2 linked regions of the Homo sapiens genome follow. The protein of the gene in region 2 interacts with the protein of the main gene of each other region in a pairwise test. Each region holds a gene or a part of one and is shown on either strand. Other genes may lie near its edges.

What was found. The genes of interacting proteins can lie anywhere in the genome.
Region 1: the proteins of B9D1 (region 2) and EXOSC10 interact in a two-hybrid assay, tested with the Homo sapiens proteins (one large-scale study listed by BioGRID and IntAct).

What each region holds. Positions count from the first base shown.
Region 1 is NC_000001.11:11,093,370-11,096,869, forward strand, and holds part of EXOSC10 (exosome complex component 10), read right to left. Parts: intron 2,513-3,500; coding exon 2,389-2,512; intron 1-2,388. UniProt on the Homo sapiens protein: Catalytic component of the RNA exosome complex which has 3'->5' exoribonuclease activity and participates in a multitude of cellular RNA processing and degradation events.
Region 2 is NC_000017.11:19,356,224-19,359,723, forward strand, and holds part of B9D1 (B9 domain-containing protein 1), read right to left. Parts: intron 1,729-3,500; coding exon 1,617-1,728; intron 1-1,616. UniProt on the Homo sapiens protein: Component of the tectonic-like complex, a complex localized at the transition zone of primary cilia and acting as a barrier that prevents diffusion of transmembrane proteins between the cilia and plasma membranes.

The sequences.
Region 1 (3,500 bases), on a different chromosome or scaffold from region 2:
TGAAATATCAGCTTGGGCACTACTAACAGAGGCACAACCAGGTGACACATAGGATTATGGCAGGACTTGAAATCACAATATACCAGAAACTGCTGAAAGATTTGTAGGCATTTAGACTAGGGAAGAGATGACTTCATGGGACAGGAGGGCATGATTTAAATATTTTCAGGACTGTCAGATGGTTGAAGTCAGATTTGTTTTCCATGATCTCTATGTATTTCTGTGGAAATAACGTTCTGCCATAGAATTAGGCATAAATAGATAGTAAGCAAGACAGAATAATACACATCTCCTTCCAATCCTGTGAGCTGGAGGGGGTTCAGTAGATTTTGAGTAACGGTACAAATAAACTAAATTTTGGTTGGGTGATATAAATGCCTCTTCTTTTGCAACACAAATAGAATTTGCAAATCTTGTCAGGCACAGTGGCTCATGCCTATAATCCTAGTGACTAAGGAGGCTGAGGTGGGGGGGGATTGTTTGAGGCCAGGATTGTTTGAGGAGTTCAAGACCAGCCTGGGCAACACAGCAAGACATTGTCTCTATAAAATAAAAAAAAATTCAGCCAGACGTGGTGGTGCACACCTGCAGTCCCAGCTACTTGGGAGGCTGTGGTGGGAGGATCGCTTGAGCCCAGGAGTTCAAGGTTGCAGTGAGTTATGGTTGCACCACTGCACTCCAGCCTGGGTGACAGAGCAAGACTTCAGTATCCAAAAAAATAAAAACAGAATTTGCAGATCTGGAAGACAGATTCAGAATAAGGCACTTTATTTATTTATTAATTTTAAATAAAGACAAGGTCTCACTATGTTGCCCAGGCTGGTTCTGGAACTCCTGAGCTCAAGCAATCCTCTTACCTCGGCCTCCTACAGTGCTAGGATTACAGGAGTGAGCCACTGACCCTGGCCAGAATAAGGCACTTTAACTTTTTTTTTTTTTTTTGAGATGGCGTCTCACTCTTGATGCCCAGGCTGGAGTGCAATGGTGCAATCTTGGCTCACTGCAACCTCTGCCTCACGAGTTCAAGCGATTCTCCTGCCTCAGCCTCCTGAGTAGCTGGGATTACAAGTGCCCACCACAACACTCAGCTAATTTTTTATATTTTTAGTAGAGACAGTGTTTTACCATGTCCGCCAGGCTGCTCCTGAACCCCTGACCTCAGGTAGGTGGATCCACCCACCTCGGCCTCCCAAAGTGCTGGGATTATAGGCGTGAACCACCATGCCAGGCCACCTTTTTTTTTTTTTTTTTGAGACAGAGTCTCACTGTCATCCAGGCTGGAGTGCAGTGGCATGATCGCGGCTCACTGCAACCTTGGCCTCCCGGGTTCAAGCGATTCTCCTGCCTCAGCCTCCTGAATAGCTGGAATGACAGGTGTGTGCCACCATGGCCTGGCTAGTTTTTATATTTTAGTAGAGACGGGGTTTCACCATGTTGGCCAGACTGGTCTTGAACTCCTGACCTCAGGTGATCACCCGCCTTGGCCTCCCAAAGTTCTGGGATTGTAGGTGTGAGCCACCACACCTGGCTGGAATAAGGCACTTTAAAAACAGGCTTTCAGGCTCAGTGAGGTGGCTCACGCCTGTAATCCCAGCACTTTGGGAGGCCAAGACAGGCAGATCACTTGAAGTCAGGAGTTTGAGACCAGCTTGGCTAATATGACAAAACGATGTCTCTACTAAAAATACAAAAATTAGCCAGGAATAGTGGTGGGTGCCTGTAATCCCAGCTACTCCGGAGGCTGAGGTAGGAGAATCGCTTGAACCTGGGAGGTGGAGGTTGCAGTGAACCAACATCGCCCCACTGCACTCCAGCCTGGGCAACCAAGCAAGACTCCGTCTCAAAAAAAAAAAAAAAAAAGAAGCTTCCATGGGGCAGTAATATTTTTAAGACAACTGTAATTATTTTTTAGAAAAAATATACCAACTATTAGAAGGGAATGTTATTATAAGAAATGTTAAGCTTATTTCCTTTTCATTTTCTAAGGTGCCTGGGTTGCTCTGTCTATCCGTATATTTTAATAATACAAAGCTCTTTGTTAGTTACCATAAGAGTAAGGGAAGGCCGGGTGTGGTGGCTCACGCCTGTAATCCCAGCATTCTGGGAGGCTGAGGCGGGCGGATCACAAGGTCAGGAGATCGAGACCATCCTGGCTAACACGGTGAAACCCCGTCTCTACTAAAAATACAAAAAAATTAGCCAGGTGTGGTGGCGGGCGCCTGTAGTCCCAGCTACTTGGGAGGCTGAGGCAGGAGAGTGTTGTGAACCCGGGAGGCAGAGCTTGCAGTGAGTCGAGATCGCATCACTGCACTCCAGCCTGGGCGACAGAGCGAGACTCCGTCTCAAAAACAAAACAAAACAAAAAAAAGAGTAAGGGAAAATACTCACCACTCTCTCCAGAATTACATCATTGGCATCAACTAGTAAATCAAACTTGTCTTCCAGCTCAGTCACTTTACTTCGATCCTTAATGTTGCTGCGACACCCATGGTACTGCATTACTCTGCTCATGCTAAGGAAAGGAAAACCAAGGTTAGCTTGTAGATTTTTATTTCACTTGTTTACATTCTGTGAGAGAGAATGTTCAAATGATGTGGCTCAGACTGTTCCCAACACATCTTTTTTTTTTTTTTTGAGACAGTCTTGCTCTGTTGCCCAGGCTGGAGTTCAGTGGCATGATCTTGGCTCTCTGCAACCTCAACCTCCCGGGTTCAAGCGATTCTCGTGTCTCAGCCTCCTGAGTAGCTGGGATTATAGGCACATGCCAACAGGTCTGGTTAATTTTTGTATTTTTAGTAAAGATGAGGTTTTGCCATGTTGGCCAGGCTGCTCTCGAACTCCTGACCCGAAGTGATCTGCCTGCCTCCGACTCCCGGATTCAAGCGATTCTCATGCCTCAGCCTCCTGAGTAGCTGGGATTATGGGCACACGCCACCAGGTCTGGCTAATTTTTGTATTTTTAGTAAAGATGACGTTTCACCACGTTGGCCAGGCTGGTCTCGAACTCTTGACCTGAAGTGATCCACCTGCCTCGGCCTCCCAAAGTTCTGGGATTACAGGTGTGAGCCATGAGCCCAGCCTTTTTCTTTCTTTCTTTCTTTCTTTTTTTTTTTTTTTTTTTTAAAGAGACAGGGTCTTGCTCTGTTACCCAGGCTGGAATGCAGCAGTACAATCACAGCTCCCTGTAGCCTTGAACTCCTGGGCTCAAGTGATACTCCCACCTCAGCCTCCCAAGTAGCTGTGACTTGGGAGTGGTGCACCACCACTCCCAGCTACTTTAAAAATTTTTTGTAGGGATGGAGTCTCCCTACGTTGCCCAGGCTGGTCTTGAACTCCTGGGCTCAAGCGATCCTTCTGCCTTTGCCTCCCAAAGCACTAGGATTACAGGCATGAGCCGCCATGTCTGGCCCCTGATACTTTTTGATGAAACCAATAAAACTTGCACCCTAGCTGGGCGCAGTGGCTCACACCTGTAATCCTAGCACTTCAGGAGTGGTCAC
Region 2 (3,500 bases):
TAAGATTACAGGCGCCCACCCCCATGCCAAGCTAATTTTCGTATTTTTAGTAGAGAGAGATTTTTGCCATATTGCCCAGGCTGGTCTTAAACTCCTGAGCTCAGGCGATCTGCCTGCCTCAGCCTCCCAAAGTGCTGGAATTACAGGCATGAGCCACCATGCCCAGCCCAAAGAGGTTTCTAATTTGTTTTTGTCAGGTGCCTTGGTGTAACAATCTTGGAGCTGAATAGAAGAATCAGGAGGTTGAAATCATCAGGGGCTGAGCTGAAATCCCTGTGAGGCTGCTCTGCTTCCATCTCTCCCTTATTCCTAGGGCAGCTCTTTGAGGTCTTAACCCAGTTGGTGAGATTTACCTGAGGCCCTCCTCCCAACCCCTTGGAAGGCTCTGAACATCAGTTTTTTTGTGTCCTGGACCCAGAGAGGCTGTCAAAAGTCTTGATCAGTCTCTCAATCACCTCTATTGAAATCAGCAAACACTCCCAGAGGAGATGGGATTGGGGTAACCTCTCTGGATTTCTGTTCTCCTGGATCTTGCCTGGTAAATCTCTTCTACTTTGCTAGCTCTCTGATGCCTCTGAGGTAGTTGCTTTTTGTTTTTGCTTTTGTGTATTACATTTACCTCTCCTACCTGTCCTCGGCAGGAGGAGGTTCGTCCAGTACCTACAGTACCTATTGCACTGTTCCAGGAAGTCTATTGAAACTTCCTACTCATGGATGATGACAGCAGGATGGAATTCCCTGCTCAGGAGGACCACCAAGCATTTTCTGCTCCAGACCCTCCACACCGTGGTAAGCCTAGGCCCAGGCCACGTGCAGTAGAAAGGCCTAGATTGTGAAATCAGATGGGCCTGAATTAAAATCCACACTTGGTCACTAGATGTAAAGCAGAAGGCAAATGATGTCAATTTTGAGTGTCAGTTTCCTTATATGGGAAAAGAAATGGAGAGAAATCTCTCCAGCAGGTATGATTGGGAAGCTCGGATAAGTCCACACAGTGAAAGTATTCATAGTCCCCATGGAGACTAAGCCCAGGCTTTGTGCACAGTAGGCACTTATGAAGTGCAAGTGAACAATCAGAATGGTTAATAACCACCAGCCAAGGTAGAAAGTAAGCAATGCCAGCCAGGAAGCCCTTGGGAAAGAGGTTAGACATAGGACGTGGGAATGGTATCCAGACAGATGGATCGGCATGAATAAAGCTCAGATGAAGAAAGTTGAGGGACTAGCACAGGAGGAGAAAGTGCCAGGGTCTAGCCGGAACACAACACGCCATGGGAAGTCAGCAGGCACAGAGTCAGGCCTCCAGGCCAAACAGCCACAGTCCTGCATGCCAGGGTGGGGAGCCTGCCTTTTACAGGCGTGGCCACTAGCCCTGATGCACTCTGAACTTCCAGAAGGCCAGCTGCACAGCCTGTAGCAGATGAAGGGGGTGAGTGGGGATGAGGAAGAAGAGGAGGGAAAGGGACAGATGGCGAGAGAGAACGTTGAGGGCTGCTTCAAGAGCCCAGGTGACAATCTGAATGTGAACAGTCATGGGCTGGATGAGGCAGAGGCTGTCTTGGGGGTGCTGTGTGAAAGCTCTGCCACCCTACCCCACAGGGCCCCTGCAGACTCACAGCCGTAGGGGTTGGTGCTTTTAAAGGTGACATCAATGGGGAAGTTCCACACCAGTGCTTGCCGCACATCTTGGCTCTTGGATGTGATCTGTGAGATCCCCTCCTCCAGACCCTGTGAGGACAGTGACACAGACGGCTGGATTCAGAGCAGAGCCAAGCTGCTGCGGCTCCTCCCCTTACCTTCAGCAGGCAGTTGGGAGGGCTGTTTTCTCAGCTGTCTTCTCCCAAGACACGAACTTCCAAACAAAGGGGACTAAGAGATGATGGAGTACCTCTTTAAGTCTGGTACTTTAACGCCGTAGCTTGACAACCCTGGGAGGCCAGCCACTCTCCCGGGCACAAGGGCACTAGATCTGGTCCCAAGCTCTTGCCCCACTGAAGGAATGGTCCAGCATGCTTACACTCTCCTGCATCCCCACCCTCACCTGAGTATCCCCATCCTCACCTGAGTATCCCCATCGGTAAATACGTAAATGTGTTTTCTCCATCAAAAATAGTCCTCTTTCAACTCTGCGGCTTCTTCCACCCACCAACCCTTTCTCTGCTCCCTTTATAGCAAAACTGCCTCAAAGAGCTGCCACACTCACCGGCTCCAATTCCTCCCCTGCTATTCTTTTGTGACCCCACTCCAATGTGACTGCTGGCTCCAGCACTCTACCAAAGGGTTTTCTCCATTAATGCCCGTGACCAACATTGCTAGATCCAATGGTCATTTCTCTATCCTCGTGTTACTTGACCCATCAGCAGCACCTGATGCAGCTGCTTACTCCTTGATACACTGTCTTCCCTTGGCTTCTGGGTCTCTCCACTGCACAGGGTGGCCCCTGCTCAGTGGCTCTTGCTGGTTCCTTCTCAGTGTTGCCGTCCTAAGGCTGCATCTTTGGCCAGCTCCTCTACCTGTACTTGGTGATCTCATCCATCTCATGGCTTTCAATGTGCTCTAGATGTCGATGATTCCCAAATTTATGTCTCCAGCCTGGTCCTTGCCTCTGCACTCTGGATCAGCACCTCCTCTTGGATATCCAGTGGGTGCCTCAACCTTAACCCACACCAGGCTGAGCTCCAGGTAGCTCTCCCCAATCTGTTCTTCTCACTGAAAGGCAGCTGCCTACTTCTAAGTGCTCAGGCTAAAAGCCCTGCTGTGAATCCTAACTCCTCCTTCTCTCAGACCTCACATCCATCAAAAGAACCCAGCGGCTCTATCTTCAGAATATACTTGCAGTCCAGCCCCTCCCACCACCCCACTGCCACTGCCCTCCTCTCCCATCTCCACTGCTGTCAGAGCCAACTGGGCTGCCTGCTCTTGCCCTTTCCCCCCGAGTCTATCCTTGTCGTAGAAGCCAGGGAATCTTCTAAAAACATAAGTCAGATCACTTTCTCTGCTGAAAGTTCTCCAGTGGGATCCCATCTCCCTTTGAGTAAAGGTCACAGTCCTTACTCTGACAAGACCTGCCCAGGTGCCTCTCTGCTCCAGCCACTCTCCTGCTGGCTCGCTCTCCAGTGGCCACACAGCCTCCTTGCTGGTCCTCAAACATGCCAGGCAAGCTCCTGCTCCAGGGCCTTTGCACTCTCTGCTGTTTCTGCCTGGACAGTTCTCACGGGTTTCCACATGGCTTGTTCCCTCACTTCCTTCAGGTCTTTCCTCAAAAGTTACTTTCTCGGCAAGGCCCTCCCTGGCAGCCTTAGCGAGATCGCAGCCTCCTTCTCATCACTCATCCCTGTCACTTCCTGGCTTGGTCTCCCCTCACACTTCTGGCTTACTAACATCCTAGAATATGCACTCCTTATTATCTGACCCCCCAGCAAGAACGTGCGCTCCGGGAAGGCAGGGTCTTCTGGTTTGGCTTTGCTCACCCCTGCATCCCCAGCACCCAGAAGACAATC